Regions from separate parts of the Homo sapiens genome. Here regions 1, 2 and 4 are each linked to region 3. The links come from fine-mapping of genetic effects on gene expression. A gene starts in region 3. Each other region holds a variant in brackets. All regions are shown on one strand. Distances are between the middles of the regions.

Region 1 (5,811 bases), 310 kb after region 3:
AGAGGCAAGGTAAGCTACAACTCACTTTTTCCAATATGTCTTAAAAAATTTTGTTTTTGTAATTTCTCTGGATCAACTATTTACTATTCCATATTTCATCAAAATTGGTAGTATTTCTTCAGAATTGAGCAAAAATTGAGTCATTTCCTTTTCTAGTTCATTTTTTAAGTCTTCAGTGTTCCTTTGCTGGCGATGGCACCCAATGATATGCATTTGTAATTTTAGACTTAATAATATATTATTTGTTGTGTTCGCTCTCCCTCTTCCTGTCAACCTTGGACCTCCTCTGATTATATTTATACTGAACAGAAATTTAATCACTTCTTTCCTTTTATGAGAAGGGTCGCTTGGTGCTGTATGCCGGTTTAAACAAACCTTTCTTTCAAACTGAAAAACAAATCTGTTCATGACTTCCAACAAGATTTAGTTAAATCTTTTTGGTTAAAAGTGGACTTGAGGTTGATTCGAATAAAGCTTCCTAAGCCTCAGCCCCAACCCTGTGTGTAGAGCAGAGACTTTTCCAGATCATTCTCTGTGACATTTTCTTACTTGTTTGTTCTCTTCCTTCTGCTACCCTGGAAGGCTGGGAAGTGGAACCCTTTACATGTAAGTTTCTCCTCCTCTCTCTCTATCCCTGTCCTGAGTGCCTCTTGCCTGTTGGAGGGGCACTCAGATGCTTTTGTTTCCACGCATATTGTTCTGTCTAACCTATTGGCACTGTCTAGAGGCTTCATGTGAGCTGTAGCTCTGTGAACTGCAAGAGACACTAGAGACAGCTCTGTTAGGGCCCTTTGGTGTGAGCTTGTATTCTGCTAAATGTTGCATGATCCAACAGAGAAGAAGAATTTCTTTCACTACCCCCTCTCTGACAGGATGGTGTGAAAGCTTGCCAGGTACTTGCCAGGTTTAATGTGTTGGCTAAAAGACAGAAATAGACCAAAGTAAAGTAGGAGAAACAGAACTAGTTGGAGGGGGAGAGGATCAACACATTGCAGAATGGAGGCCTGAGCATCAGCTGTGGGCCTGACCTGCCTGGGGCCATATGGCAGCACCTGACCACTCTGACTCATCAAGGTCAACAGGGCTGGCCTGTTCTGCAGGGGAAGTCGGGGCATCTAGTCGTGTACTATGAAGCCACTTCTCAGCACCAGCTCTAGTAGAAATCCTAATTATTTTGATCAATTAATTGTTCAGAAGCTAAAGTTCATTTTTCTCTGTGACCTCTCACTCTTTGTAATGAACATGTATTTCTATTTTAAAATCTCCTTGTCCTCATTTGGATACAAATTTAATCAACATGCACAAAACTGTCAATATGATAACAATAACTAAATATGCAAGAATGCTGCTTAGATTACTTGTGTCCTTAATTGCATTGCTATTTCTACCAGACTTGTTGCCTGCTCTTCAACTTATTCCTTCTACTTTATGAAGAGAGATGATGATTAATTTTATTCTAGATCTCAGGCTTCAGAATATCTTAGCTGCCCTTGCGGCTCTCACCTGGGATAGTAAGATTCATCTTGACCATGAGTTATTTTCCTCTGGGCTATTTTGAGATATTCTAAATTGTCCTTTCTTTGAAGGTAACATAAGTATAGATTTTTCTAAGTGCAATTTAAAAAATCTGACTGAGCATGCAAATGTAAATTAATCACTTTGTAAAACTGGAGTTTTCTATTTATGACTAATGGACTTAACAACATAGTGGAACTTTACTATAATGCTGGCTTTGTGACTCACAATGTTTAAGTTCAATTATCTTTAGCCATTTTGGAGTCTTAGTATTTAAATCTTTTTGGAGATGGCCTGTGTGAGTTCAGTCCCATCTCAACGGGTATTGGAGTGAGGTTCACTTTTATGATATTTACTTCATCACCACTGGTTGGCATAAAGCAGTAGTTCTCAGCTTTCAAGTTCTCCTGACCCCACCCACCTGAGAGAGAGGACGTTCTCCCACAGGAACTGTAGTTTCTCAAGTTGGGAGAGGTGGAGGGAGTCCAGGATTCTCATGTTAGAGTGTAGTGGTAACATAGACAGGATGTGATGTGGGAAAGCGCCAGTTAATTCTGCCATACCTCCCAGGAGACTTTGCCACCTCCCCAGCCCACCCCCTAGAGAATCACAGGAGGACCAGATTGGGAAAATTCCTATGAAGGGAGGCCACCAGGTCTCTTTTGTCACACCACTGAAAAATATAAGTAAGCAGTGATGAGTTACTCAAGAATCTTAAGGCCTTCTGGGTAAAAATGCTTACCATAATTTAGACTTACAGAATAGGAGGTTCAAACTATTTTTATCTTAAAAGCAGTATTTTCTTAATTTCCCCCAAAAACTACTTCCTTGCTAAATAGTAGGATTTTTCTCATCGTTTATGGTAATGTATAGATTTACATCTTCTCACCTTATTTTGACCTCCATGTGACTTAGTGAGATTGAATGGAGGATTGAAGAGACTTGGCAGGATGGGAGCCAGTTTTTTTTGTTTTGTTTTGTTTTGTTTTTTTTTTTAAGACAGTTTCACTCATTGCTCTGGCTGGAGTGCAATGGCGCGATCTTGGCTCACCGCAACCTCCACTTCCTGGGCTCAAGCAATTCTCCTGCCTCAGCCTCCAGAGTAGCTGAGATTACAGACATGCGCCACCACACCCGGCTAATTTTTTTTTTTTTTTAAGTTGAGACTGGGCTTCTCCATGTTGGTCAGTCTGGCCTTGAACTCCTGACCTCAGGTGATCCACCCACCTCAGGCTCCCAAAGTGCTGGGATTATAGGCATGAGCCACCTCGCCTGGCTGGGAGCCAGTTCTTGATGATCTAGTCAGTGGATTTTCCTCAGG[A/T]AATATTTCAAGCTTCACCCCGCCCAGCAGGTTCTTAAGATGCCTCCTGGCCAGGCACGGTGTCTCACACCTGTAATCCCAACACTTCGGGAGGTCAAGGCAGGTGGATCACCTGAGGTCAGGAGTTCCAGACCAGCCTGGCCAACATAGTGAAACCCTGTCTCTACTAAAAATACAAAAATTAGCTGGGCATGGTGGCTCATGCCTGTAATCCTAGCTACTCGGGAGGCTAAGGCAGGAGAATTGCCTGAACCCAGGAGGCGGAGGTTGCAGTGAGTTGGATCGCACCAGTGCACTCCAGCCTGGGCAACAGAGCAAGACTCTGACTCAAAAAAAAAAAAAAAAAAGAAAAGAAAAAAAAAATGCTTCCTGCTGTCATTTGTTGTGTGACATACAGAACAAAATTCCTAATTAATTATAGCATACAAAAAATAGAAATGTAATCATAAAACAATGCATGAAAAAGCCAAATAGGAATTTTTTTTTTTCAGTGTTCTGAGTTAGTGACTATCTCCATTGCTATGGTTAATTGAGAGCTGATTTTAAATTATTCTCAAGGAGAATGTGATCATCAATGAGTAAATTGATCCATTTGTACCAAATTCCTATGACGCCATTCCAGTGACACAGTATGCTACTTTTTGATTACAAGTGGGATTCATGGTCTAGTATGTTCTCAATATGGAAAGATACCTTAAAGAAGTCAAGAAGTCTAGCCCTCCATGATACTTACATTCCTTCATAAATGACTTTGTCGCCTACATTTTATCTCTCCAATGAAGGGGAACTTATTGCTCTGGCAATGTTCTCATCCTCTTCAGTTTTTTAACATTGGGATCTGTTTCCCCTTGTGTATGACTGCATGTGCTTCTAGCATGCCATACCTTGATGATTTCTTAGGTGCTGGTTATACTCACCTGCTTCTACTCCACAGGTGTCCAAGGATGATCGAAGTGATATTGAGTCTAGCTCAGATGAGGAGGACTCAGAACCTCCGGGAAAGAATCCCCACACTGCGACAACCACCAATGGGACCAGTGGTACCAACGGGTATCTCCTGACTGGCTCCTGCTCCATGGATGATTAATTACTCAAAACTACAAGTCCCAAGCAAAGTGAACTATTTGTTCCTGGAAGTATTTAATAAGTTGCAAATGCAGTTCCTTTCATAATATCTCAGCACCAGAAACAAAAATTAAGATTATCAAAGCATTTTGAATAGTGCACTGCCATGTGTCCTGTCTGTGAATGAAGAAGAATTACCATTCTCTCTTTGTAGGCATGCTGTATGTAATTGACACAAGGGAACAGTATTTGCATTTGTACTGTCTTAGAATATTATTTATTTTTTTGTATTTGTAAATCTGTGGACAAAAGAGGGTTTCCTCACTCCTTTTACTCACTGGGCTCATGACAGTGAAGGAGATGCTCCATCTGCTTCTCCCCCTTTCTCTTGCTGTAGTCCAATGTGCTATGAGCATCAGCTTACTTTGTCACTTAGAGCAAGCAAAACCCAGTGCAAGAGTCTCGTTCAGCTCTAAATAGGTTTGCTTTCTTTTAGTTACAGTGCCCATTTTGAAATTGCCTATACAGTCTTAGTGACCATTTAAACCGGACGAACTAGGTGTTTAATTTTCACTCTTCATGTTCAATTAGCAGTTCAAATTAAAGAAGATGGTTATTGGAGAACTTTTTTGAATGGTTTTGTATTAAATTGCTTTGAAATAGATTTCATTTCTTGTGCACACAGCCAAGATTTCTTCAATGGGTGTGAGCTAGTTGAGGGTTAACCTTGTAGGTTGCAGAGTGTATTTGTTTGTTTGTTTGTTTTTCTCTGTGATGAGGTCAGTGCTCTGATTTTGAAGGAGGATATTCACTGAAGCTCATAGTTATAAACAAGGAAATCACTGTTAAGAATGGGAATTTGTCCTGTGTTCTGGGAATAACATAAAGAGAGCAACTGATTTCAGCCAGGTTTTGCCACTACCCTATAATTAGTGCAGTCTTATGTTATAAAAGAAAGAAGTTAACTATATTTGGGGACAAAAAAATATTTCAAGAGTTGATAAAGATTACCTGTGCAGTGCAGAGCACTTTAATGCAACCAGCTTTCAAGAAAAAGCCCTATCTAGTACTTGATGTTGATGTTTTTATTTTGCTGAGCAAAATAAAGCCAATGGGAGAAAGACTATTTTACCCTTTGCTTTTCTCCTTAAACGTAATCCAGATGACTTTCCTGTTACTAAACACTGAGCAGCATTACACTACAATGCTTCTTTGGTTTCCAGGAATTTTTTTCAAATGGGGCTGTTTCTGGAAAAATGAAAAATTCTATTGGACAATGGCAATATCAACAATGAGGAAAATTACTGAAGAATAAGTTTCCATAAGTCTCCTACATAGCAGTGTTATTTATGTACAGATAAGAAAACCATATGTCAGCCAAAGATTTTATCTCTTCTTCTAACTTTTAGTAAGAGGAAAAAGGGATTATAAAACCCTTCATAAATCAAGAAGGCCATCACTTAGAACGAACCCCAAACAAAAATGCCATAATATAAATGTGTGAATCAGGGCTGTGAAGACAACAGCAGAAATGCTAACAAGCGTGCAGAAACACCAGAGAGTGCGTATCCTGCTCAGAACCATTCACATTTAATTCAATTCTTGGAAAAAATTAAAGCTTTTTGCCCACAATTTGCAATCTGTGGGTTAATAGTTAAAAGAATGTTCCCAACCAAAAAATTCTTACCGTAATATTATATCTTGCCCTACTTATTTACAAAATAATATGTTTCTGTTATGGTCCTTAGTAATAATTGAAGAGGCTTAGAAATACATCTGCTTGTTTATTGAGAAAACGATGCAAATAATTCTGCTTTTAGAGCCTTGTTATTTTATTTCACAAAACAGGCATATGTCTAGGAGTGTAATTTGTGGATGGTTGAGTTTGTAAGAACAATCATAAAAGGACT
Region 2 (5,000 bases), 180 kb after region 3:
AAAAGATCTTGAATAACGAAAGGAAATTCTTCAGTGCTGCTGCTTATTGCATCTTCCTTTCCCTCTTCTACCTACATCTACCCTCTTGCATATGTTCTGATTCTCCTCGTCCCTTTCATTTACCCTACCTCATTTTCCTTCTGTGTTGGCTTGTGGCTGGCATTCTATCTGAGAGGGCATTCCAAGGCCAGTGAGAAACCAAGGATAATGTGACTGTGAGGCCCTGTAGAGGCCGTCAGAACGCCTGGGTTATTGAATTCTGCCATTAATCAGCTTTGTGACCTTTACGCAAGCCTCTTAATCTCTCTTGGATTTAATTGCTTCGTCTCTAAAATCAGTAATGTAGACTATCCTAACTAATGGCTTTCAGCTCATATCCCATAATTCAGTAAAGAATTTGAAATTGCTCATATGTATGGTGAGCTGGTCCCACCTCCTTGGAAGGTGGCACAGTAATGCAGAATAATCTTAAATATCTTCTTATATTTTGACCTGGCACTCCAACTCCTATGAACTTATCTTTAATAAAAAATTGCCAGGCACGGTGGCTCACGCCTGTAATCCCAGCACTTTGGGAGGCTGAAGCGCGTGGATCACGAGGTCAGGAGTTCAAGACCAGCCTGGCCAACATGGTGAAACCCTGTATCTACTGAAAATACAGAAAAAAAAAGTAGCCAGGTTTGGTGGCACACGCCTATAGTCCCAGCTACTCAGGAGGCTGAGGCAGGAGAATTGCTTGAGCCCAGTAGGCGGAGGTTGCACTGAGCTGAGATCCTGCCACTGCACTCCAGCCTGGGGCAATAGAGTGAGACGCCGTCTAAAAAAAAAGAAAAAATTACACAGGAACACTAAATATGGATGTGTGAATGTGTGAAGTTGCTTATTACAACTTGTGATAATGTGGAGGTGATGGATATTCACTAAATGTATATGAATATATACACATACATAACATAGCAAATCCAAAGCAGAACTTAATGTCTCATATTAGAAGAATATTTTAATTAAATTATCAAAGTGACAAAATGACATGCAATCTTTTTGAGAAAAACTATAACTATTCTTAAAATATTTAGTAGAATGTTACATGAAAGTAACAATCTCATGTATGTGTTTTACTGTGGTAGTAATGTAATGGATAAATCACAGCAGTAGGTAAAAATGAAGACTCCTTTTACAGGTAGAAATTTGGAGGTTTTTTTCAATATATCTTTAATACTTTATTTTCTATTAAATAAAATTAACTCTGAAATGTAGGAATTGGAATGGAAAAGACTATACATAGGATTAGGTATACCTAGGTCATAAAAGAACATGAGGTTGTGAATTTTAAAGAGGAGGAAATAAAAATTAAAAGTCGAATTCCATTTAAATGGTGAAGAAATAGAAATGTTTGGTCTGAAAAAAAAAATTCAGCTGTTTATGTTTGCCTAGTTCTCACTGTTTTGCTTTATTTATCTGCTACTTTCAACTGAACTCATACTAGCAAAGCTGAGAATCTGTGGTTGCTGCATTCTTGGTAGTTTTGGATCTCATCAGAAATCATCTCCTAATTTTCAGACTGGGTATAGAAATTCCTTTTTACACAAGTTGGTATCATTCCACAGAACAATTTTTTCTCTCCTTCTATGTTATGAATTTATTTTCTGCAATGTAACTAGCAGACCATCTATATACTATTCACATTAAGAAACTGGTTGGACTAAGAAAAATGTTTGAGGTGATGAATATCCCAGTTACCCTGATTTGACCATTGCACATCGTATCAAAAAAAAAAAGTATCAAAAATAAAACACATTACCCCCAAAACATGTACAACTACTATATATCAATTAAAATATATAAACAAAAATTCAATTCAGGGATTTTTTTTGAAGCTAATTTGGACTTTATATTTTGACATTTAAGGAAATATACTTTGACATTGTCCATTGCCCAGAATAAATTAAAAACTTTTTCAGATGATAAAGGTATTTCATCAGCACTGAGATTATTGCTTATAGCTTCTTGTTTAGTGGTATGCCATACTTTGATTTTGGTTTTATAAAATTTTCTGTAAAGAGCATTGAGAAGCCTTTCCTCATGTTGTTGCTGCATTGTGTTTAGGCTGTGTCTTGAGAGAATGGCATTTCAGATTGACAGCTTTCTTCAGGCTGTGAGGTATACAGACTTTAGGACTTCATAAAGCTGAAGTATAGATTTTTGGGGAAGATATTGGGGATTCCTTGAACTCCAAGAGCAAATGGTGGCTGCTGCATTCTGAGTTCTTGCTCTTTTGTAATTATACAAGAGTTTCTGGATTTGGTGTTTTATAAAACCATAAATCTTATTTTTTCAGCTCACTTGATAACATAGCAACTTTGTAGAAACTCTAGAAATAAAAAAAAAAGAACGCATGTCAGAGTCTACCAAAATAACACTCACTTAAATATGATTTTCATTATTAGACAGTCCCCTGAAGGCATAGACTTCTACTCAAAAGTTTAGAGTTGAACTTGACTATGAAAAACATTGGTCTAATTTATATGCTGTGACAAAACTAGCTTTACAGGCTTCCTTTGGCCGGAGGCAGTGCCTGAGAAGGGAGTTGCATTAGTATTCACCTCCTGTTTCTACCATGGGAAATAGAAAACTAGTAACTCCCAGAAGATTCAGGTAATTTGATAGGAAGTATTGATCCATGTATCAAAATCTGTACCTGCACATTCACTCTGCATTAGCTGAACCATCATCAGAGACCTCTCTGACACAGAAAGAAAAATGATTTACTGAATTTAGCGAGGAAAGCATTACTCAAGTGTGTTTTTTCTAAAATCTGAAAGCTAATGGCGTTCACATACCATGATCACCATAATAGAACATTTTCCTCATCAACAACAATAATGAAACAAACCAGATGTTCTTTACTTAAGAACAGCTTTCTGGGGGAAGTAATGAGATGTTCTACTTCTGCTTGTGAAGCCAGTGTTCTTTCCCAGCAGGGAAGGGCCTCATCTTGTCTGGGTGTGTTTGGGATGGGGGTGGGGTGCTTAGGACAAGTACTTGATGTGGAGCAGAGCAGCAGGAATTCCGAT[T/C]GGACCAGCTCATGCTCTGATTATAGCTCTGTGTGTGGTTCCAGGGGAACTCTAGTTCAGGGAGTATCTGGTACTGGGTCTGCTGTCAGGTGGGACAAATGGCTTAGTGTTTGTGCTTTGTTTTGTTTATGTTTGCCTCCCTTCTCATTTATTAATGCACATGAGAATAGGCCTGCTTGACAGGGGCCGTTGCTGTCATTGCTTAGGATTTATTAGTCAAAAATCTGGTGATACTAGTTATCTTGGAATGACTATTCCAAAGCACAGACAAGGTGACCATTTTGTGCCCAAGAAATGTAGGCTTCCACAAGGAAGTGAAGAGTGAAAAGGATAAAGTAACTTTTTCCCTCATAGAAATTAATCTATATTGATAGAGGTAGTTTTACCTGAGTGGGGTAAAGAGAGACTGCTGGAGTGAGTGCTGGCAATGTTCTCGATATGGATAGTGATGTAAGTATTTACATATCTAGACATACATCAAATTTCTGTGCCCTTAGGACCGTGTACTTTACCTTAACAACTTAATAACGTCTGTTAATCCTATAGCTGCCATACAAAGCAGTCCCTGCATGTTGCTGAATGGAAATGTGGGCATAAAGCATTCAAGTAGGAAAAGCTGGGATTTAAAGGGTGTTCCATTCCTGGCTATTTCCAAAGAGCTTCTGTTCATACTGGTGGGAGATACTGATCTCTGTTCATTTGTTCATTCTTTCTTTAAGAATCTGTTGAGCACCCATCCTATGACAGCAGTGATTGTGGGCACCATGGATGAAACAGTCTGAGACACTAACCTTGTGGTGCCAAGGCTATTATTGCTCTTTTCCCTGGTATCATCAGTAACATGGGAGCCTAATTCAATTTAGCAGACATTTATTAAGCATCGATGCACAAGACATGGTGTCAGATGTAGGAAGCTATGGCTCCTGCCTTCAGGGATTTTGTAATCTAGCAGAGAAGTTAAGCTTTGTCTAAAAATACTTATATAATATGAGGCTTTGTGATAAGTGGAATGTTGCATTAAGGAGATGGGACATTTTAGCCAAAGAAGGCTGAGTTTTCCTGCTTGTCCTCATTCTAAAAGATACCTGGTGTTTGTGTGGAAAGGGCTTCCTCACTTTCCTTCTCCTTGACCTTAATATATAGTCTCTCATCTTATTAACTCATTCTGTACCACTAACCCATGTCTTGTCTGTATTCTCTTTCCATCTTCCTCCATATACCCAGAGTGGTGACTGAGTGGAGTTGGGAACTAAAGATGATGGTGGAGAGTCATTTCAGATCTTTCCTCCATCCCTTGGCCCAATCCACCCATGGATTGCTGTAAAATTACATCCTTAATCCTGGCCAGCAGAACTTAACCACCAGATGTTGATGTCACTATTCCTTCATTACCATTTAACCCTTTCACAGACGACATGATTGCTCAGACCACTTGTCCTTCCCAGCCGCCCCATTTCACCCTTCTCTGCACCACTTGCCTTACTTTCAAATACCAGATGAGTATTACTGTACCGGAAATGTCATTTTTTTAGACGTGTCTTTCAATTAAACTGATTGTAATCAGTTTAACCGATTTGTTCTTGAGAGTTCTTCCCTGGCTTCCCATAGAAACTGCACGGAACAAAGTCCCCAGCTTTTCCTCTGGACGTTAGCAACTTTGACAAAGGCAAATGAAGCATAAAACTGTCACCTAGTCTTTAGACTTCCCACTGCCCCACATATTCCTGTCCCAGGCAGCTGGATGCATGGCTTCCTCAGGGTTTGCTAATGTAGCATCACGTACATAGAATGACCGTCCTCACCTTTACCTAAAACCTACCGGCCCAGGTTCTTTGTGGATCCCCTCACCATTGAACACCTATAATGTTAAGCCCTTTAAATCTCTATTGTATAGGTTGGAAGGTTGTTTTGCATATATGTAAAGCA
Region 3 (5,725 bases):
GAAGAAGTCTGGCTGGCCCAGAAGGCCAGGCTCTGACATGTCATGACATGTCATGACATGACTTTCGGACACAAAGTTGGTGAGAGGTCTTAACAAACCTCTGTCTATGGCCTACGAGAATGCAGCTGGTGCCAAGGCATGTTCCAGTGTTACTGAGAAGCTCACCACATGGTCTAGAGTGGTGATGGCGACTTCTACTCCCAAATGAAGACTCACTTCAATGACACCTCACCTCCCTCACCCCAGAATTGACCAATTCCTTCTTTATGCCCACACTATTCTACACACGAGTCTAACATGGATATATAAATATTTAACACAATTATTCAGATTTTTTTTCTTCTCCTTGAGAAGACTTTTTGGGGTTGGAGTAATGTTGATTCATTTATTCAGTAGTTTATTGAGTATCTACAATGTGCCGGGCAGTTTTTTTTTTTAAGTGCTAGGAATAGAACAGTTGATAAAATAAATACAAATCTTTTAACTTTCTGAAGCTTACATTTTAGTGCATGTCTGTGTGGATGATTGATGAAGATATAGGTACAATATATCTTGTGTTGACGGTGGTAAGTGTCTTGGAGAAAAACAAAGCAAGATAGGAAGAGTGGTGGTGGGGATTGAGGGATGTAGATTAACTAGGGTGGCCAGGGAAGGCTTCAGGGAGAAAATGACATCAGTACAGAGCAAACATGGATGTTCGTGTAAAAAGAGTTCCAGGGACAGAGAAGAGCAAGCACAAAGGCTCTAAGACATAGCTGGTGTGTCCCAGTAAGGGCAGGGTGGCCAGTGTGGACTCAGGCAGAGTGAAGGAGAGAGAAGAGTAAATAAGTCAGAGTTAATACGGAACCAAATATCACAGGTCATTGGAATAATTTGGCTTTCACTTGGGAGGGATGAGGAAGAAGCAGGGTTTTCACCCCAGGGGTGATCTGACAAATTTGCATAGGATCACACTGGCTGAGAATAGACTGTAGAGGGGCAAAGGGTGAAACTGGGAGTTGGGAGGTTACTGGAGTAATGTGAATTAGAAGTATTGGTTGTTTGGACCAAGATGGTAGCAGGGGAGGTGGTGAGAGATGGTGAGATTATGGTTTTAAAATGGTGCTGATGGGATTTGGGATGGATTGGAAAGGAGGTATGAGAGAAAGAGAGAAGGGGAAAAAATGACTCCACATTTTTGGCTTGAGCCAAGACTACAGGAGGAAGAGATTTCAAGGGGAAGATTAATAGTTTGGTCATGAGATAGCTTTTAGACATCTGAGTGGTGGTGTTAAATTGCCAGTGGATTTAAGAGTCAGAAGGTCAGGAAAAAGTTCATGGCTAGAGATATAAATATGGGAGCTATTAGCATGACATTGGAGGGCATACAGATGTCATTAAAAGCCACGAGACTGGATAAAATCACCAAATGAATACATTCAGATAGAAAAGTGAAGAGGAAAAAAGACTGACTCCTAGGCCACTATAACTTCTAGGGGTTAGAAAAGTGAGGAGTAACCAGGAAGGAGACTGAGAAGAAATGGCCATGAAGGAGGAAGAAACCCAGAAGAGTGAGGTTTCTGGAAGCCAAGTCAAGAATGTTTTAAGACACACGACCTGACAACTGGGCCAAATGCTACTGACAGAGGTGTTGTGAACTGCTATGAACTGAATGTGTGTGTCCCCCAAAATTCATATGCTGAAATCCTAGTTCCCAATGTGATAGTATTCAGAGACAGAGTCTTTGGGAGGTAATTAGCTAATGAGGGTAGAACCTTCATGAATGGGATTAGTGCCCTTATAAGAAGATAGGGCACTAATCTGTGTTTCCTCTTTCTGTGCTCTCTGCCATGTGAGGATACACAAGAAAACAGCTGTTTTCAAACCAGGAAGAGGATCCTTGCCAGACACTGGATCTGCCTGCATGTTGATCTTGGACTTCCCTGCCTCCAGAACCGTGAGGAATAAATTCTGCTGTTTAAGCCACCTAGTCTAAGCAGCCTGGACTAAGATAAGAACTGACCTTTGTGTTTAGCAGCATGAAGATCACAGGTGACCTTGGGCAGTTTCAATGCAGCAGAGGAGACAAATGTCCAAATGGAAGTTCAAAAGAAAATGAGGGGAGAGAAATTGGAAGCACCAGTATAGGCCATTCTTCAGTTTCACTTTCAAGAGATAGAGTGGAAAGAGGGGAGGGAAGAGTAAAAGAAACTCCCTCTCTCTGTGTGTGTGTGTGTGTGTGTGTGTGCGGTTATATGCCCACTGGAAAGGTTTAGTATAGCCTACTGGCAGCACCAGGCAGAAAATGAATGTGAGAAAAATGAACAAAAATGCCCCAGAACCATGTATACATGGGCCATGGAATGAATTCACACATGGCTCCTGTATCAATGGGGAAATGCATTGCGGGAGGGAAGGTGCCTGGGTTAGGCCTCACAGGCCTAATGCCTTAAAGGTTTTAGATTCAAAAGGCAGAAATAATGAGCCTGCCGAGTAGCACAGTGGAGGTTCTCATGATGTGCCAGGTCAAAATGTGGTCTAGCAGCCTTTTCAGAGAGGTTAGTTGAGAGGGGTGGTTTTACAGAACGCTGCAGTTGCTATCATCATCATCATCATCATCATCATCGTCATCAAGTAGCAATTAATAATCAAATAGCAATTAAGTGCCTAATTTTTTGTACCACCTCATAAATCAATATAGGGGGGCTTGTTCCCTGGGGGAGCTACTTTGATGAGAAGCAGCAGTATAAAAGACCGGAAAGTCAAAGATTGGGGAAAGGCAGGCGTGGGGCAGAGGCAGAAGGCTCTTGCCAAACCATCCTGCCTCAGTTCCTGATTTTTCACCCTGCCTCTCCAAGCGCGGGAGTGGAGGATCCTTTCCCTCCCACTTCCTCCTTTGCTCTTTACCCCTCCCCCTCCCCCCCCCTTTTTTTTTTTTTGCTGTCCTCCTGGAGCAGGGCTGGTTCTGAAGCTTGGCGGCAGCCCCTACCTGCTGACCCACCGCCTCCGGGCGCACGGGAAGAGGACTGAGAGCCCTGAAACCCCAGCGGGGCAGGAGCCAGCATTCTGAGCATGTGCGAGCCAGCCAGGGGGCTAGGGCGGATTTGGGGGGTCGACTTTAGGTCGTCGCCCTAAGCGCAAAGCGAAAGAGCGGTGAGAGCAGGGGCGGGCGACACTCCCCGGAGCGGTGCCCCTGCGCCCAGGGCGCAGCGACTGCGCCCTGCCCTGCGGGTGTGGGCGAGTTGGCCGCGTGTGTGCCTCGCTGTTTGACGCGAAGACGAGCCAATCAGGGCGGGCGGCCCGAGCTGCCATGTGACGGGCAAGGCGGCCCCTTTCCCCAGCGCGGCCAGAGGGAGGAGAGAACCGGGGCTCGCCGCGAGCCTTCGAGAGCAGCGGCCGCGGAGGAGGCGGCGGCGGCGGGCGGGAGCAGCGGCGGCGGCGGCACAGGCTCGGGGCCAGCCGGGCGCGCATCCCCGGGCGCCCTGCGCGGTGGAGAGCTTGGCGGGCTGCGGGTGCCGCAGGACAGGAGTGGACAAAGCAAGATGGCAGGGATCTTAGCCTGGTTCTGGAACGAGAGGTTTTGGCTCCCGCACAATGTCACCTGGGCGGACCTGAAGAACACGGAGGAGGCCACCTTCCCGCAGGCTGAGGACCTCTATCTCGCTTTTCCCCTGGCCTTCTGTATCTTCATGGTGCGGCTCATCTTCGAGAGGTAAGAAGGGCTGAAGCCCCTCCTCCCCTCCCCCTGCGCACACACACGCGCGCACACACTCGCGCGCTCTCTGGCGCACGCCCCCGCGCCCCCAACGCTCGCGTTCACGCCTCCCAACCTTTGTGTTCGGGGAGGGGTTGCTGACCCCCCTGCCCCGCTGGCTTTCTGGGAGCCAGAAAGGGTCTGGCTTGCCACGGATTTCCTCCCGGGCGCCGGGGAGGAGCCGCGGAGCGTTAGGGTCGCCCCCTGCCCTCCTCCTGGGCCCTGCTCTCCTCCCGGCAAGGGCAGGCGAACAAAGGTGAGCGGTGGTCGGGCTCAGGACCCGCCGCATTCCGCGGGGCTCGCCCCTCTCCGCCGGCGCGCCACGCAAGGCTGCCAGGCAGGGCTTCCCGCCGGGGCCCGCGCCACCCACCTGACAGCCAGGAACGTTCCGGACGCGCGGCCCGGAGGGAGGAGGAACCGCGCACACTTCAATCTTTATGCTCCGGCACACGGATTGTAGGGGTTGTGCTTCAAAAGAATTCGCCAGGGACTTCCTGGCTTCTGGTCGCTGTTTGGTTTTTATCCGTGAAACTATCAGGCCCACAGTCCTGGCAAATAGGGGATAATAGCATTTCAGGTTATTAGCGGTTTCTTTAAAAGAGGATGTGACAGGACGGGTCCACATCCTGCAAAATGGTGATATTAAACTGATAACCCTGTCCTGTGAATAATCATAAACTTCTTTTTTGGTACTCGAAGGCACTTAAAATTTTGAGGAATTGTCATGCAATTGTATAGTTCCTCGGTTTGGTTGGATATCTCCATTGTGTCACATACAAACTTGTGTTATTCTCATGGAATTCGTTTTCGTCGCGAAACTAGATTGTGCCTGCCATGCATTCTCTGGGTGCTACTGAAAGAAAACCAGGACAGCAGCACACTTTTTTTTTCGTAACAGAAAATATTATCTTCCCCTTTCTTGTACCCTCCCCTTCCTCTGCCCAATTCATCAGTAAAGGCTGAATTTCTTAGATCACAAAGTAGAGTTTAGATTGCATTTCTCGCTTCCACTCCGCCTTTCTTCCCCGCCTTCAACTCACCTTGGTTTTGTTTCTTAAGCTTTTGCTGGTACCTCATTTGCTGTTCCTCTTTGCCTGAAAACGACTGTTGAGGGTGGCAGAACGCGTCTTTTGAGTCATTTGCTGCTGGACGAGGCAACAAAGCTTCATGGGGACAAAAAGTATCTTTTGTCTCAGGAAGGTATATTTTTCACCGGACAGTATTGTTGCTTGAAAACGAAGTCAGCTGTTCGCCTGCAGAAATTGACATGCACAAAGCAACAGACTTTAAGACCTATGTTTAAATTATTGGAATCTAATACAGATGTGTCATTGATCCTATACAAAAAAGGATCAAAAAAGTCACAGCAGTGCTGTGAAAAAATGGGTGTGTTTGCAGGTGTAGAGTTACCTCTAGAGCAAATGTTTGGTTACAGAAAATATGAACTCTATACAGTTTTGCAGGCTCTCCAAAAACAAGCAGACTCAGGGATAGCAGGTTTGCTCTATGTTGGCACATAGTAGGGGATCTACACACAATTGCTGAATTATGATAAATTGTGTCTGATAAATTCTGGCTGGGCTCACTTTTAGATAGATAATGCATTTGAAAGAGATGTGCAGTCTTATGTGTTGGAGAACAAAAGCATGATCTGTGCACAAACAGCCGAATTTTCCTGACATCCTCCTTCTCTATGCTGATTCCAGGCTGTTCACTGTGTTTAAAAAAATTAAGTTGTTAGAATGGAGATGGCTTTGTACTTAGATTGTCTCTGCCTCTAAAAAGATAAACACTAATGTGATAGTTGAAAACTGGAAGTTCATTTTTCCTCTTTCTAAACATTTTTTATTTTCTTTCTTTTTTTCCATAATCCCATGACTCGACTTAGAGTTTACATAGAGGGGTGAGCTGCTTTCAATTGTCAGTCACAGCAAATGTCCTCATATTGATATAAAGTGAGTTGGTCAGTTTCCTTCAGGCCATTGATCTAAG
Region 4 (5,878 bases), 92 kb before region 3:
TTCCCATTGAAACTATCTAAAATGACTTGTGATAGGTGGTGATGTCTCCACAGCCCATCATTTCTGCCCTAGGGCTCTTAATAAAAGAGGTCAAACACCTTGATTTCTTGCACAGTCACTTCACCATGGCCGTGGAGTTCTTGTGTGTTTGTGTGTGGTGGGGGAGGAGTTGGGAGTGGAGATGCAATCTGGAAGACCACTCCCTACCCACTTCCAACTCCTCCCCTCACCACACATAGGAATTTCTCATAGAAATATGGCAATCATTATATGGGGTCTGGGGGTATCTCTCATCTTGACCAAGCTCTAAAACAATGTAGGCCCCAGGATAGGACTAATTTTTCTCCTGGTTGTATGCTGTGTTCAATGGTCCTCTGCTGAGATGGCAGGTGCCTTGTGTCTAGCTTGCTGTTAAGGGAGGAGTACAAGGCAACAATTATGGGGGTTGGGGGGTTGAGGTGGGGAGACACCAGAGTTAAAGTATCAAATTGGTATCTTGCCCTATCAGATTGTAGGCTGATTCTTATTTCCCTATCAAGATTGTGTCACTTTTTGGTGCCCTTCATTTTGTGTCCCTGCTTGCATTTTTTTTTCAGATAGCTTGTCAAAAACAGAACTCTTCAGAGTATCTATGTACGTGCATTGGTCTCTATATTGGCTTTCCATTTTCTTTCTACTTGAGATCATTTATGATGATCTTGTCAACATTTTGCTTTGTAGAACCTCCAATCTTTTTTTAGCCATATTCCTTCTTAGTCTCAGGCAATGGATCGTGCCTCCATTTCTTTTAAACATCCTTTGAGCTACTTCCCCAGGGAAGTCCCAGGAAATGTCTACCCACCAAAAATTCCTCCCCGTTCCTTAACATTATGTGACAGGGTCATTTTTCCTCATGGCTTCTGTCTCTTCCATACCCCCAGCCAGTCTTTTATGCTGGCCAGAACCATGTTTGGCATAGCTGTTTTTCTCACTGTTTTCCCTACTTTAATGGAGGACAAATTGTCAATAAACTAAGCCAAGGATTTAATAGATACTCCCCTGTGGGAAGAATGGCACTTCTAGCAGAAGTATGAATTGCCAGCCCTCCATTACTAAATATAACCTTGCCACAATGTCCTTCTGAATTTTACACAGAGTTTTATACCTTCTTGACATACTTCTTCCATTAGATTGATTTTCTGACCTAGATTTCCCTTCTAATGCCCCATTCCGCTTGACAGTTCTATCCTTTTGGGACTCCGTAACACCAATAGTATCACACATACTTTACTCCGTGGAAAGGTCAAGCTCATTTTCTTTATTTAACCAGGTGGATTCTATGAAACTTATTTATTTCTATATGTCCAGCATTAACAAAGTACCTAGCACATGATAAATAGTCAATAAGAGCAAATTGAATAAAAATAAGATGGTATAGATGCATATGAAAACTTAACTATTTTTGAAAACTCTTCCCCTAGCTGTATTTTCTTGAGAATAATTGGGCTCCTTTTTTTTGCTATTGTTCTTTTCTCTGTATGTCACAGACTTATGTTTAATGGGTTTTAGATCCTAGAACTTGAGTTTGCAGGCCGAATATGTGCTATGTGGGCTTACTAGGATTCAGAATTACCTTCTTGCTCTCTCTCAAAGAACAATATAGCATTGAGACTTGGTAAGCCATAAATAGAAAGCAAAGGGTGAAATTTCATTGTAAAACAGCAAAAAGAATCAGAATTCCCTTTATTCTTTTAGGGCAAAAGATCACTTCTTGCATTATTTGAAGGTGTCACATGAGAGACTTGCCTGCTTTTCAGAAGGCGGTATTGCATATTTGGGGCCGAAAGAAACAGGAGAGCAGAGGGGAAAGAGAAGTTTGAAAGCTCAGAGGTTTTATTCTAAGGTATAAGCAAGCTACTGTGGATGGTGTTCCTAAGAGAAACCCTCAAATAGCTTTTATAGGCAAACCAAGAAAAACTTAATTGAACATCCTAGAGAGTTGATTTTTCCCACCTACAGAGATAAAAATGACATTGCAATGCAGAGGATAGGGCAAATCTTGGTTTAGGTTAAAAAAAGAGTAGTTAAGTCCTAAGAGAAAGGTCATATTTTAAAATAGGTTGAAGAATAAAAGAAAGACTGAAAAAAATGGAAATATGGCAAGTACTTGGGCAGGTGAACATGTTAAGAATACAATTTGTGGAGAGGGCACACTACTTCTTTCTTGCTCCTCATTAGCACATTGTGGGATCAACTGTCCTGAAGAGTGACATATTTTTACAGACCAATTTTCCAGGAAAGCATTTGGTTTCCGTGCAAATAAATTAACGAATAAATTACTGGAAATACTTAAAAGGAAATCTCATGTGATTCAGAGTGAACTTAGAGATTCTTAAATGAAGAAACATCACCATTGTGCCCATGCCAAGAGGGTGATAAGGATTATTCCTCTTTCTTCAACAATTTCTCTTTCACTTCCTGATTTCAGTGGTCATTGGCAGGGTGCAGTCTTTGCCTGTTGCTCTTCTCTCTTAACACACTTTATTTATTTATTCATTTTTGGTTTATTTTATTTTATTTTTTTTTGTAAAGACAGGGTCTCACTATGTTCCCAGTGATGGTCTCAAACCCCTGGCCTCAAGTGATTCTCCCGCCTCGGCCTCCCAAAGCACTGGGATTACAGGCATGAACCACCATGCCCAGATCACACTTAATTTTAGAAGGCTCACTGTTGCCCATAAACTTTAGCACCCACCCCCTCTGTATAGATGACACCCAAGTCATTAACTCTAGTCAAGACTCACTGTCACCACTTCCATCCCCATCACTGGATAATTCCACTTCAACATTGTGCCATGACCTCAGACTCCTCCACCAAAGTCACCATGTGCTCACAGCACATCCTACCATGTGAGCTTGCTCTCTGGCAGGTAGGGGAGACATCTAGAAGTAAATTGGTACACAAGGGACAGAGAGAAGACTTTGCCAGTTGCAGGCAGGGATGTATGTGACACATGCAAGAATCTTCCTTTCTGCCTGGGAACAACTGCCTGTTCTGGCCTCTAATCCTGAGCCTTGGTGCAATTTCACCTTCCTGACTCTGATCTACTGGTTTCCCTTCTTACTTTGAGGACTGAACTCTGGCCTGTGTCCCTAGAATTAGCCCATTAGTCTGGCTCCTAATCCACATTTTGCTCATAAATCAGTAAGCTACCATTTGTATGAAAAAAAGAGTGTACATGACTATAATTATAAGACACTTCTAGAAGGATACATGAGACATTAGTAAAAGTTGTTGCTTCTGAAGAAATAAATTAGGTAGCTGGGGGCAAGGGGAGAGAGACTTACCTGTCAAGTAAACCTTACTCTTTCTCTCTCTCTCTCTCCATATATACATATGTATATATATACACATATATATACACATATATATATACACATATATA[T/TAC]ATATACACATATATATACATATACACACATAAACATACATATATACACACACGTATATATATAAATTTTAAATTTTCATTTAAAAATTAAATGAAAAAGTATGCTGATCATCCTATGTTCTGTCAAAAAATATTTATTGATCATCTACATGCCAAACACTGTTGAATAAATAATGCTCTCCTAGTTATTATTCTAGTAAATAGAAATAGTTGATAAACAAGTAGATGAGAAGCTAATTTCACCACCTCACACTCATCAGGATGGCTACTATTAAAAAAAAAACAGAACTAAATAAATGTTGAGAAGGATGTGGAGAAATCAAAACCGTAATGCACTGATGGGAATGTAAAATGCTGCAGTAGTGTGAAGGCTCCTCAAAACATTAAAAATAGAATTACCATATGATCCAACAATTCAACGTCTGAGTATATACTCAAAAGAATTGAAAGTAGAGCCTCAAAGGGATATTTGTACACCTATGTTTATGGCAGCATTATTCACAATAGCCAAAGGTGAAAGCAGCCCAAATGTTTATTGGCGGGTGAATGGATGAACAAAATGTGGTGCATACATACCATGGAACACAATCCAGTCTTGAAGGCAATTCTGGCACCTGCTGCAACATGGTGCACCTCAAGGACATCATGCTAAGTGAAGTAAGCCAGTCACAAAAAGAAAAATATCACATGATTCCACTTACATGAGGTACCTAGAGCAGCCAAATCCATAAAGACAAAAAGTATAGGAGTGGTTGCTAGGGGCTAGAAGGATTGGGAAATGGGGAGTTTTTGTTTAACGGGCACACAGTTTTGCAAGATGAAGAGTTCTCGAGATGGATGGTGGTGATGGTTGCGTAACAATGTGAATGTACTTATTGCCACTGAACCGTACACTCAGTTTTTCTTTCAGAGACAAGGTCTCACTCTGTTGCTCAGACTGGGGTGCAGAGGCACAATCATGGCTGACTGCAGCCTCAACCTCCTAGGTGCAAGCCGTCCTCCTACCTCAGCTACCTTAGCCTCCTGAACAGCTGGGCTCACAGGTGCATGCCACTGTGCCTGGCTAATTAAAATTTTATTTTTTGTATAGATGGGCTCTTGCCATGTTGCTCAGGCTGGTCTTGAACTCCTGGGCTCAAGCATTCCACCTGCTTTGACCTCCCAAAATGCTGGGATTACAGGTGTGAGCTACCACTGGCCTAAACTGTACTCTTAAAATACTTAAGATGGTATATTCTAAAAAAAGTAATAAGCTAATTTTAAAGACAGTAAGTAGTTTGAGGAGAATAAACAAAGGTGACAGGACAGAGTGTAATGGGCTGGGCTATAAAGAGTGAGCAGAAGAGGCATCCTGAGGAGCTGGCATCTGAATGGGACCAGGAATAATGGGAATGAGCTGGCAAGAAGGTCCCGGGATGCAGAGGGCACAGCCGTGTAAAGACCCCCAGGTGGGAGAGAGCTTTCGTGTGCTGCAGCAACAGAAAGAAGGTCTGTGCAGCTGACACGTGCTGTAGGAGGCAGGGGAGGCAGAGCGTGTCCTTGCACAGGGGCAGTAAGCAGCAGTGCCACTCTACAGTTCAAGTCAGCCAGCCATTGGTGTGAACAGACCACTCTGTCTCTTTCTTATGGCGCAATTCTAATTACTCTTCTAATTATTCTTATTACCCTACCCTCTCTTTTAAGAGCCAAGATTGAAGTTTCTTTCGGATGAGATTTCTCAGGAGTGTCAAAGTAGGAAAGTATGGAAGCCTGAGGCCTGGGATGATCCCAAATGTCCAGAAATACAGGCATGTGCACCAATCCAACTAGGTTCTGATATCAGAAAACCAGCTTTGGAGTTTAGGCCCAGTTAAATCTGACTTTAAACATCCTTCACATCTTTGAAGCTCGGTTTCTCCATCTGTCAGATGGGAATCACGAGAATGTCTTCCTCACTGTGTTGCCGTGAAAATCATGTTAATCGTGGATAACTAATTGTAAACTAGTGTTATTTACACATTAGTTGGTATCATGCCACTGATTTTCTGGCTCTGTGGTGCTGCACTTTCCAGTGGTTCTAGCAATCTCAGAGATTATCAAAATAAAATTCAGGGCCTGGCATGGGGCTCACACCTGTAATCTCAGGACTTTGGGAGGCCGAGGCAGGCAGGTTGCTTGAGTCCAGGAATGCCAGACCAGCCTAGGCAACATGGTAAAACCCTGTCTCTACACAAAATACAAAAATTAGCCAGGCATGGTGGCACACAGCTGTAGTCCCAGCTACTCAGGAGGCTGAGTTAGGAGGATCACCTGAGCCTGGGAAGTCAAGGCTGGAGTGACCCATGATTGCATCACTGCACTCCAGCCTGGGTAGCACAGTGAGGCCTTTTCTCAAAAAAGAAAAGAAAAATTAAGGAACATTTTTGAAACAAAAGATGCAATGTGTGGGTTTGGAGAGTCCATGGCGAGGAGGA

Alleles and levels. Alleles are on the strand shown, and positions count from the first base shown. SD is a standard deviation of normalised expression in the study named. Not every link is listed here.
As copies of C replace T in region 2, the expression in sigmoid colon of the gene that starts at base 3,345 in region 3 goes up (moderate effect, 0.43 SD a copy in GTEx).

Evidence for each region. PIP is the estimated chance that this variant, and not a neighbour inherited with it, causes the effect.
Region 1: its variant is the best candidate, but not a certain one, in a credible set for the expression of CERS6 in whole blood (TOPMed, PIP 0.75).
Region 2: its variant is the best candidate, but not a certain one, in a credible set for the expression of CERS6 in sigmoid colon (GTEx, PIP 0.85).
Region 4: its variant is the best candidate, but not a certain one, in a credible set for the expression of CERS6 in whole blood (INTERVAL, PIP 0.58).

Annotation. Positions count from the first base shown.
Region 1 is chr2:168,765,740-168,771,550 of GRCh38, forward strand. It overlaps CERS6 (ceramide synthase 6), which reads left to right. Exons shown (of 10, transcript NM_203463.3): 9 at 1-9; 10 at 3,771-5,811. The coding sequence ends at 3,923. Among named protein-coding and RNA genes, the nearest start is that of CERS6-AS1, 18 kb to the right of the region's middle. The variant A/T (reference allele first, on the strand shown) is at 2,837.
Region 2 is chr2:168,636,663-168,641,662 of GRCh38, forward strand. All of the region lies in intron 4 of CERS6 (ceramide synthase 6), which reads left to right. Among named protein-coding and RNA genes, the nearest start is that of MIR4774, 56 kb to the left of the region's middle. The variant T/C (reference allele first, on the strand shown) is at 3,075.
Region 3 is chr2:168,452,928-168,458,652 of GRCh38, forward strand. It overlaps CERS6 (ceramide synthase 6), which reads left to right and starts at 3,345. Exons shown (of 10, transcript NM_203463.3): 1 at 3,345-3,691. The coding sequence starts at 3,522. It overlaps LOC102724081 (a long non-coding RNA gene), which reads right to left. Exons shown (of 4, transcript XR_002959433.2): 1 at 4,104-5,725. RefSeq lists silencers at 2,937-3,156, 3,187-3,276, 3,397-3,526, 3,977-4,036.
Region 4 is chr2:168,361,146-168,367,023 of GRCh38, forward strand. The region is part of intron 2 of LOC105373734 (a long non-coding RNA gene); the gene reads right to left. Among named protein-coding and RNA genes, the nearest start is that of CERS6, 92 kb to the right of the region's middle. The variant T/TAC (reference allele first, on the strand shown) is at 3,426.